Linked DNA regions of Homo sapiens. The protein of the gene in region 2 purifies or fractionates together with the protein of the main gene of each other region. This does not show direct contact. Each region holds a gene or a part of one and is shown on either strand. Other genes may lie near its edges.

Evidence for each region. Proteins that work in one complex are often made in the same cells at the same time.
Region 1: the proteins of LCLAT1 (region 2) and ZDHHC11 purify together in Homo sapiens (co-immunoprecipitation; one large-scale study listed by IntAct). This does not show direct contact.

The regions. Positions count from the first base shown.
Region 1 is NC_000005.10:811,961-817,175, reverse strand, and holds part of ZDHHC11 (palmitoyltransferase ZDHHC11), read left to right. Parts: exon of another isoform or gene 1-849; intron 850-2,380; coding exon 2,381-2,415; intron 2,416-5,215. UniProt on the Homo sapiens protein: Endoplasmic reticulum-localized palmitoyltransferase that could catalyze the addition of palmitate onto various protein substrates and be involved in a variety of cellular processes.
Region 2 is NC_000002.12:30,444,844-30,450,936, reverse strand, and holds the start of LCLAT1 (lysocardiolipin acyltransferase 1), read right to left. Parts: upstream 3,692-6,093; 5' UTR 3,554-3,691; exon of another isoform or gene 3,414-3,553; intron 1-3,413. UniProt on the Homo sapiens protein: Exhibits acyl-CoA:lysocardiolipin acyltransferase (ALCAT) activity; catalyzes the reacylation of lyso-cardiolipin to cardiolipin (CL), a key step in CL remodeling.

The DNA.
Region 1 (5,215 bases), on a different chromosome or scaffold from region 2:
CTCAGAGCTACAACTTCTCATATCTGTGTCAGAAAATCCTATGTATCCAGAATAGAGTAAAATTTCAGGACAAAACATGGACTTTTTAACAGTTCTTACTTTACCCATTTTAAGTTATTTTTATCTCCCCTACCCCCCAGGGCAGTAATTCAGCAAGATCCAGCAGAAAGAGGGCTATTTGATGTTTCTTCCCATGGGGAGAGTGTCAGGGAGCCTGGACATTTCAGGCTCATGCATCCATGACCAGTCTCCCACTGGGGTCAGAAAAATTCAGCCATAGACTTGGTGAACTTGGCTTCCCGCTGCTGCTTTGTTCTCCTGCTGATGAAGGTCAGCTTCAGGGTGTATCTGCCATCAAACCTTTTAAGACTGGAGGGCAGCTCCCAAATAGCATCAGAATCCACTCCTGTAGGCTCTTTTCTGTGGGCCACGAGAAAGATGGTCTTCTCCTTAGATGAGGTCTAAATAGTCAGAATTCCCATCATCACAAAGCCAAAACGGGCTTGGACTCTGGAAAGGGATGCATATAATCCCAAATCACAGCCACTATGGCAAAGCAACAGGAGATTGTACAGATGGTGAGGTGACCGTCAATTAGACAAAAATTCTCCACGTATTTGTATTTTTCCAGAAGTATCTTTTTGGCAGAATCATCCAGAGTTTTTCACAGCTGATCCATCCCACTTGTCCGTTTTTCCAGGCATATCACTTATCTTCGACTTATCCACATGCCGCTACGGCCACTGCCTGTCCCGCAGCTGGAACCCCCGCCAACCCCACCACCGCCTGCGCTACCGCCCCCCTCCCGCCCGTGCAGCTGCTGCCGCCATCTGTCCGCCTCTGAGTCTCCCTCCAGAGAATATCTTTGTGATCTTCTGTTAAGCAATGTCTTCTTTGATAGATCCCAAAAACATTATTTCCGAAAAAAGAAGAATAAATGTGACTTTAAGCATTTAAAAATTTCCCTTCAATTGACACCATTAAGAGAATGAAAATATAAGCCACAGACTGAAATAAAATATTTTCAAGTCATATACTTGTATCCAGAATATTTAAAGAATTTTCAAAACTCAGCAATAAGAAAACTCTGTTTTCAAATGGGCAAAAGATTTGAACACAAAACTTCCACAAGGCAATAATATGAACGACAAAGCACATGAAAAGCTGCTCAACATCATTTCCCACCTGGGATCCACGAGCTAAAACCACAATAAGATAGCATGGCACCCATGTTAGAAAGGCTACAATAAAAATGATCAACAAGATAAGCCAGGCACAGTGGCTCATGCCTGAAATCCCAGCACTTTGGGAGTCCAAGGAGGCAGAAGGATGGTTGGAGGCTAGGAGTTTGAGACCAGCCTGGGCAACCTATCTTTAAAAAAATTAATTTTTAAAAAGATGAACAATACCAAGTGTTGGTGAATATGTGGGAGAATTGGAAGTCTCATCCATTGCTGATGGGGATGAAAGATGATGCCACATCGCCAAGCAGTTTGGCAAAGCTTCTGATGCTGAGTAGGTACTTATGATATGACCCAACACTCTCACCCCCAGATTCTTACCCAAGAGCAATGAAAGCAAGACTCTGTCTCTAAAAAATATAATTAAAAAGAAGATGAACAATACCAAGTGTTGGTGAAGACATCGGAGAACTGGAAGTCTCATGTATTGCTCATGGGGATGAAAGATGATGCCACATTGGCGAGCAGTTTGGCAAAGCTTCAGATGCTGAGCATGTACTTATCATATGAGCCAGCACTCCCACTCCCAGGTTCTTAACCAAGAGCACTGAGAACAACGTGTGTGCACACATAGCAGGTGTTTTTCTTTGCTAGAGCTTCCACAAGCAGGAACCACACATGGGGTGTTGGAACAAGAAATGTATTTTCTCACATATCTGCAGGCTGGAAGTCCCAGAGCACGGTGTCTGCAGGGTTGGTGTCTCCCAAGGCCTCTCTCCTTGCCTTGTAGATGGCCACCTGTTCTCTGTGTCCTCCCAGTCTTCCCTCAGTTTGTGTCTCTGTCATAATCTCCCCTTCATAAAAGGACACCAGTCACTCTGGATTAGGGCTCACTCTAGTAGCCTCATCTAACATCCATTACCTCTTTCAAGACCCTGTCTCCACATATAGTCACATTCTGAGGTACTGGGAGTCAGGATGTCAACCTATGAATTTGGAGGAGGATATAGTTCAGCCCATAATACAAGGATTGGGAGGAAGGGTGCTGTGTCACCACTGAGATCCTATTCCATGATCCAGGCATTCTTGAAGTACCATTACTCAGAACTGACTAGTAATGAACTTGAATTTTAAGAATAAGTTTAATGTCAACAAGGTCTTTGTTCATCCTATGAATTTTGCATCCCTTCCCCCCACAGGAAGCAGATGATGCCCCGAGTATATCTACACTTGGGTAAGTTCGTAAGTTTAACGGGAACGTTTTGTCTGTCTCTACACTTGCCTGAACTCAAATTACATAGGAAAATATGTTCTCTATTTAACATGTTCAAATAATCTGATGACATAAGGGAAAGTAGAAATGTTTCTCTGAACATTTATAGCCATTCATGTGGCTTATTGCACTCATCTTACTTGAAAAAATTATAGAATTCTTTATAACTAACATTTGAACTTACGCACAAAAATAAGGCCAAGCGTAGTTATTTTCTTTCTTTAAACACGTGTAATGTTGTCAGCCTGAATGTTTTTTAATGTTTCTAATAGTGTTTCATTGAGAGTCAGATCTTGTCATTTCAACTCTAAATACATCCACTGATGACAGCTCTGCCCCAACACTGCACAATTCCAGCCCAACTGCACACCACTTTTTCACCCTCCAAACTACAAAGCTGAAAGAAGACCCTTATAAAGAGGACCATGATCCAGTTTTAAGCACACATTCTAAAGGGTACCCTGTTCCCATGATGAAATAAAATTGTACAGCCATGACAAATGCATATTCTTCCCAGAGAATCTCAAGTACAGGATACACTTCTCACAGAACATAGAGTAATAGGAAATCTACTCACACATGATGCTGAGTAAATTATTTACTCCTTGTTTGCTGTTTCATTTTTCTTTCCATAAAATGAACATATATTAACTTTATATTTTAAAAAGCAGCTTTATACAACATTTCCCAGAGTTTTAGGGTTTAGATATTGCGCTCCTACACTCTACTAAAGTTTCATCTAGAACCATTTAATACAACCTAAAAGAAAATGAAGTGGAAAGGTAAGAGTCATTGGCTCAAACCACCCCAGGTGCACAGACACAGGCACGTGCACACACACACACTCGCACACAGTCACACTCTCTCACACTGACACAGCCTCCTTCCTGCCTTCACCTCACATCTCAGTCCCCAGCCTGCCTGCCATATTCCTCCCATCACTGCAGGGAGTCCCAGCCGGCCCCACAGGGGAAGCCCCCACCCCAGCCTGCACAGAACAGCCCCGTGCTCTCTGGGCACACAGCAGCTGCAGCCGTCCTGGCCCAGGACCTCTGGGGTCTCTGCCACCATTCCAGTAGGTCATGCTGCTCAGGGGGGCCAGATGGCCAAACCAGGTAGGGCCCAGTGGACATAAGCCCAGTGACACGGCCGACATTATTCAGGGAGGGTGTGTGAGGGAGGCTGCTCGTGCTGGGAAGAAGGAGCACCCACACCTCATGGCTCGGAGCTGCTTGGGGTTCCTCTAGAGGCACCTGGGACCCCAGACTGCTGAGGTCACCGCATGCCTCCCGGTCTCCCCCTCACAGATGAGTGCACCCAGCTGGCCTCATCCTCCCAACCCAGCTGCCCTGGATCATGGAGGAACATTTATTTTTTTATTTTTTTATTTTTTTGAGACAGGGTCTTACTCTGTCACCCAGGCTGCAGTGCAGTGGCACAATCTCAGGTCACTACAACCTTTGCCACTTGGATTCTTGCAATCCACCCACCTCAGCCTCCCAAGTAGCTGGGACCACAGGCTCATGCCACCACACTGAGCCAACTTTTGTAGAGATGGGGTGTCACCATGTTGCCCACACTGGTCTCGAACTCCTGAGCTCAAGCGATTTGCCTGCCTCAGCCTCCTAAAGTGTTGGGACTACAGACATGAGTCACTGTGTCTGGCCATGGAGCAACATTTAGATGGGGGAGAATTTAATACCTAACTTATACTCAGAACTTATAACCTTGTTACATGCTAATTGTATCAGTTTGAAGATGATAGTATAGGTTAAAAATATTCTGCACCTCCCTTCCTGAATTTTAATTTCTTCAACAATATGGCATAGATTACACTCATGACGTTTCATATAGATGTGTTTTATTCTTGTCAGGAAATTCACCCTCTCATGATGTGCATATACCGTGGCTTAGTCAACCATTGTTCACTATGGGATATTAAGTTTATGACCAAGTTTAGGTTTTGCAAACAAAATTGCAAGAAGCACCTTTGTGCCAAGGTTGTCAGATACTGACAATATTGTTTTGTTTCTGTGGAACACTTAAAAGTCAAAGGGCATTTGCATTTTAAATCCTCATAGTTTCTTTTTACTTACTTTACCAAAAGGTTTAAACAATGCAAATTTCCTTCAATTTCCTCACCCTTTTCAGCACCAGATATTAGCAAGGTATTTTTAGTTTTATCCAAATAACACTTTTAATTGTTTCAATGTGCATTTTCCTTATTACTAATGAGACTGAACATATTGTCATTCTCTTTTTTACCGTTTCACAGTTCCTCTTGTATGAATTAGCTTTTCAAAGGTTTGCGCACTTTTAAATGGAGTTGTTTGTATTGTCGATACTAAGTGCTCTCTGCACGTTAGGGATAGTAATTCTCTGATCTGTGTGTTTCCAACGTATTTCTTTCAGTCTGTCTTTTAAAATTTTGTGTTTATCGTGTCTTTTGCAACGTGAAGTTCATAAATTTTTGTGAAGTCAGTTGTCAAATGTACCTGTCTTGCTTTAAAAAGTCTTTCTTACTCCAGGGTTATACCAAAATCATACAGAACTCTTTGCTGATATTTTTATAATTTTTCTGTTTTGACTTTCCTTATATTTTGATTTTCAAGCCATCTTCAACTTATTTTTGCATACAGGGAGAGAGCTAAGGTTACTTTATCTCGAAGACTTAAGTAATGGTTACCACCTCGTTTATGAAACAATACACCTTTCCATCTAATTCAAAGGCCCCCTTTTCTAGTGCTTGCCATAAGCACTA
Region 2 (6,093 bases):
CCGGTCCATATTTTGCTCTTCATTTTCTTAGTGGTGTCTTCAGATGAAGAGAAGTTTCCAATTTTAAAGAAGTCTGAAGACAAATTTATCAATCATTTTCATGATCATTGCTTTCTGAGTCCTTTTTAAGAATCTCTGCCTATTCCAGGCACTAGTCCTTTATTTGCGCTTATGGTTTCAGCAGTTCTCCCCCTTGCTTTGACTTCATGAAATCCTGCATCTTTTGCAAGATTTGCACACCCTACCTTGTAGTCGATTTGCACTGCATTCATGTTATGTTGTTAGGTGCTGGACAACTTTAGTGTTACACACGTTTAAGTGGAGATCAGCTTTAAAACTAGAGAAACCATCAGTGATTACTTCCATATTACAATGATTTCTGTACAAATATATTCAAAACCTAAAGTAAAAAGAAAAAAATTCTAACACCCATTATCCTAGCATTTTTGTAGCATAAAGTGGAAGCTATGCATCTAATCGAGATCCTTCTACAGTTCCCACTGCCCGCAGGAGAGTTCCCACTCTCTTAGCTAAGAGTTCACAACCTGGCTCTAACCTTTCCTGGCTTCTCTCCCAGCAACACCTGTAATACTGTGGTCTGACCCCTGGACACCATGAGCTCTCACTTGTCCTAGCTTTGCTCTGTTTCTCCCTACGCCTTTATCCTCCAGTTAGCTCCCTTCCTCTTCTGGCCAGGCCCATCCCAGAAGAAGTAACTGTTCCCTTTTATGTGCTCTCACAGGTCTCTGTACCCACAATTATATTTGAGTCCTTATCATGCTTTATTAGTTAATCATTTATTTATTTGTCTCAACTGTCTACAAACTTCTGGACCTGGGACTTCTCCCTGAACTCCTCAAGGGTAGGGTCAGGAGTTAATGTTTACATCCTAAAGACTTGGCAGGGCTATTCCATAAAGGTTCAATGAAACAATAAATGTCCTAGCCACTTTTACTCATCCTATTTTATTAATAAATAAAGACTGGAAAAATTAGCACAAGTATATCAAAACAACAAGCTTAACTAAAATCAGTTTTCTTTTAAAAGTCCCCCAGCAAATTATTCTTTTAAAAAATGTAATAAAAACAAAAATCCCAATTATTGATTTGTGCTTCCTGATAGAAATTAGTCATAACTAGCCAGGCACAGTGGCTCACACCTGTAATCCCAACACTTTGGGAGGCTGAGGCAGGCGGATCACCTGAGGTCGGGAGCTCAAGACTAGCCTGACCAACACAGAGAAACCCCGTCTCTACTAACAATACAAAATTAGCCAGGCGTAGTGGCACATGTCTGTAATCCCAGCTACTCAGGAGGCTGAGGCAGGAGAATCGCTTGAACCCGGGAGGCAGAGGCTGTGGTGAGCCGAGATCGTGCCATTGCACTCCAGCCCTGGCAACAAGAGCGAACCTCCCTCTCAAAAAAAAAAAAAAAAGAAATTAGTCATAACTCTGTTTCAAAATAACTTTTTAATTAATGGGCAACACAAGTAAGAAGAATATACCACTTAACCAAAGTAAATGTAATTGTTACCACACAAATCACTATTGGACGCCAATGGAATAAACCATGATTATTATTTACACAAGATCACAAACAAAACTACTGGCTTGAAATATGTGTTCATTCTAGGACATTGCTAGAGCCTTTGAAAAAGAAAAATATATATATTAAAAATGAAAAATTTGTACATGAATTAATGTTTCCCCTTAATACATAACACATCTGTATGTCATAGGAAGATAGTAGGCATGGTGGTAGTAAGACAGTAAGAACACAGGCTGGAAACACAATGCTAATTGTGTGATATGGACAAATTACTTAAACTTCAATGTGCTTCAGTTTCCTCATCTGCAAAATAAAGATAATAAATGTATCCGCCTCACAGTGATGCTAGATGACTGAGTTGGCACATATAAGTCCCCGGATTCAGTGCCTGGCAGAGTACATGAATGCAGAGGAATAAATTTCAAATATTTTCACTGTTTTTTTAACTTTTTAAAGCCCTTTCACACATACTGTCTTTTCTTTTTCCTCCCAACAGTGCAATGAGATTGTTTGAATAAGAAATACTCACTTTAGAGATAAGACACCAATAGTGAAGTTGTATGATTACCCTAAGATATTTTTAAGTGGCAGAGTTTGGACTAGAATCCACCCATAACCTCAACCCCAGGACAAACTGACCAAATCTCCATGGATCCAGTTTGGAAGAATCTTTTGGGTTTTCCCCATTGCTTCCTCCTGGTTGTCAGCAACAGCCAGCCTAAAGACCTGGTGGGGGCAGATGCAGACGACCATGTGTTCAAATTAAAAAGTAGGAGAAGCCTAGCTTTCACAGAAACTGACACATAGTTGGCACTCCAGAGATTGCAGCTATTGATGACTGAAACACAAGCGCTATTACGTTTTTCTCAGTTACAGAACAAGGTACTACTCCATAAAATCAAGCCTACTACCAAAAACAAAAGTCAGTTAACATTATGCTTATCTGTCATATCAAGCATATCAAAGTACAATGTGCAACAGAAACCTAAACGAAAAAGTGATGATGTATTTTTACTTACTCTCAAAAAATATGTTTTACAAAAAGGGCTTTCATCAAGTCAGTTTTTTGAAAACTAACCCACGTAGTTATACTTCATGAGATGACGTTTCTTTGAACAAATAAGTTAATGATATGAATAAATATTTCATCTTGGTAATGCCTTCAACACATATCTTCAATACTTTTCTTGGACTTAAAGTGACTTCAATCCCTAATCTCATCTACTGCCATGTACACAAGAAACACAGTTAATGAACTTTAAAGGCAGATGCAGTATTTCCAGGGAAGCCACCTGAACCAGGGAAGTACAAGAAAGCAAAACATCTCCACAACCACATCTAAGTGCCTTATCTTTCAACTTCTTTTCTTCAAATGGGCAATTAGAAGCTACGATACACCTTAAAGATCAGGTTTGGCATCCGCCCTGGCTAGGGCCTACCTTTCTTTTCGCGGCACTGCCACTCTGGCACCTACAGGCAGGCCTTTGGCGCCTGCAGGACTCGCAGGGAAGACAACCCCAGCCCCTGCTCTCCACGGCTCTCGTCGAAGCCCCGCACGTGGTGACCACTTGAGACGTTTTAGTGCATGGGATTTAACAGGGTCAGACCTCAGGTTGCGTTCCGGGACAGTGCAGCTCCCAGACCCGCTGAGGTCGCAGGAGGAAGGTTTTGACGCTCCTAGCGTAAACACCGACGGGACCCTCTTCGCCCCGCGGCTACCTCGCCCTCGCCGCTCGCGCGGCCCCTCAGCACCTGACGCCTCAGCCAGCCTCCAGGAGTCGCTTCCCCGCGCCTCCTTCCACCTGAGCCAGCGACGCTACCGCCACCTGCACCGGGACCCCAAATGCCAGGCCAGTGGCCGTTACCCGAGGTCGCGGCCCGGGGAAGGTCCATGGCTCAGGAGGAAAAGCCCGGGCTGCAGCTCCCCTTCCTGCACCTCTGAGATCCCCCGGCCGCCGCCATTTTCCTCGCGCCGTAACCCCACCTGATAGTTCCAGCCTCCCACCTGTGACAAGCAGGGCACGCCGCGCGACGCCGAGTGGGGTGCGTGGGCAAGCTGGGGCTCCGTAGGGGTCACAACCTCCGTGCGGAACCCGCCGTTAATTCATCCCGTAACGCGGAGGCGTCCGGCCGTCGCCCTAGTAATGCGTCCCGGAAGGCTACGTCCTGATTGGCTGCAGGCGCCGTGACGCAACGGCGTCCCCGGCTGCGTGGGAAACCCGGGTCCCCGGCGCCCCGCGCTTGCTCCACAGCCCGGGATACCCCGGGTACCTTTCTTTGAGAGCTCCTTTAAAGAGGCCTCGCTTATTTCCTCGTCTGGCCTCCTGGAGAGGAGGGACCCACGGAACGGTGGGGTGTAGGGGTGAGAAAACAACGAAATAGGAAATTAGCGGAGGTCATTTGTCCGAGGGAACCTAATGGTTCATTCAACCCCTAGAGCTGCAAAATGGAAAACAGAAATCTGGGAGTTTAATTTACAAGCCTAAATTTGGTGCGCGAAGTCACAGGACAAATCAGTAGTAGAAGCAGTTATAGAACCCAGGTTCCCTGATCAGGAGCACAAAGTTTTTCTAGCACACTCAGTGTTTCCCCAGTCCTAGAAAATGTTTCCTCCCAGTTCCCATAGCAATTTCATCACACTGCTCTTAAAAGGTCTCGATCACCTATCATGGTGTGTCTGTCCTGTCCCCTAACCTACTAGATTGCATGCCCCTGAATGGTGGGGACTGTGGTTAAACCCCTTTTCATTTCCCTTAAGCAATTCCCTCCTCAACTTGGCCTTCAACAAATACAATAAGAATCTTAAAAATAATAAACATAGCTACACATCACACACAGCCACTCATCAGTAGTTCATGTATGTCTATACGTTTTATCCGTTTATTCAACAAAGCACAGAGTGAATATTTTTAAAATTACAAGGTTCCTGACCTCACAAAATTTATGGTGTAATAATAATGACCATCTACATGTTGGCTGCATAGCTTCAATATAGCTAAATTATATCCCCAAATTGCCTGTAAATCAAAGATTCTTGTGCTCTTTTCCTAAATTAGCTTCATAATTTCTCTAAGTTTGTTCCAAAACATTTTAATATTTAAGATGTGCTAAAATTGCATCAGAAAGTGAAGAATGACTACAGAGAGAAACACCAGAACAAAAGTCAATTCTGCCAATTATGCCTATGACTTTAGGCCTCCTTTTTACCTTTAAAATAAGATTACTGGAATAAAAGATCTCCCAATTCTTTTTTGTTGTTGTTAAGAGTTGGCCTGGCTATGCTCCAGAACCTTCAAGGGCTCTACTGTGGTTCTTTGGGGGCTTGCCGGAGGTTCCTCATAGCCTTTGCAGCTCCATTGCAGAGAGCTCTAGCATTGTGAGGTGTGTCCGGTGATACAGCCCAAGAGGCAAGGTTGCCCTTACCGCCCTAACCACAGAGGACAGTGCTGGGCTCTTTCTTTTTTCTTTTCTTTGCTTTTTTTTTTTTTTTTTTTTTTTTTGAGACAGGGTCTCGCTCTGTCACCTAGGCTGGAGTGCAGTGGCATGATTGTGGCCCACTACAACCCCTGCCTCCTGGACTCAAGCAATCCTCCCACCTCAGCCTCCAGACTAACTGGAACTACAGGCATCTGCCACCATGCCCAGCTAATTTTGTGTTTTTTGTAGAGACAGGATTTCAACATGTTGCCAGGCTGGTCTCGAACTCCTGAGCTCAAGCTATCCACCCACCTTGGCCTCTCAAAGTGCTGGGATTAGAGGCTTGAGCCACCGCGCCTGGCCCTGAGCCCGTTCTTGATCTGAGCTACTGATCAGTAGCCACCTTCCACGTCAACTGCTAAAGGGATAGGAACAGAATTCCCAAGGGCAAAATATGCTGATTTCTAAACTCAGAGATCTGCTAAGTGTCATGCTTCTTTCTTTTTGGCAGAGGTGCAAGGTGTAGTAACATGTTTTTCATTCTGGGGAAAATGTCTTGACGTGCCCAAGATCATTGGACCACTTCAGCATCCAAAATGATGTATAGTTTACATAATGCTATTGTACCAGGATCATTCTTTGTTTTGATACATGTTCTATGCTTACACAAGATGTTGACATAAGGGGAAGCTAGGTAAAGAATATATGGAAAAATCCCTGTACTCTCTTTACATCTCTCCTAAGTCTAAAACTACCCCCCCAGTTTTTTAAATAATTATTTTAAAATATCACCAATGTAGCAAGCTCCTGAATTTTTGTGGGGTTTATCCGCGTCTGAAATGTATGTATTTCATCAAGACATCCAGAGAAGTAGTCCCCGACCTTTTTGGCACCAGGGACTGCTTTCGTGGAAGACAGTTTTTCCATGAACGGGGTGAAGGGTGAAGGGGGTGATTTCGGGATGATTCAACCACATTACATTTATTGTGCACTTTATTTCTATTATTATTACATTGTAGTATATAACACTTAAAAAGTGGTGTTAATCTGTGCTCTACTGTCCCAAAGGGACAAGTTTCTCAATCTTTCCTGACCCCAGTAACAGAGCATCACAGCTGATGAATTGCT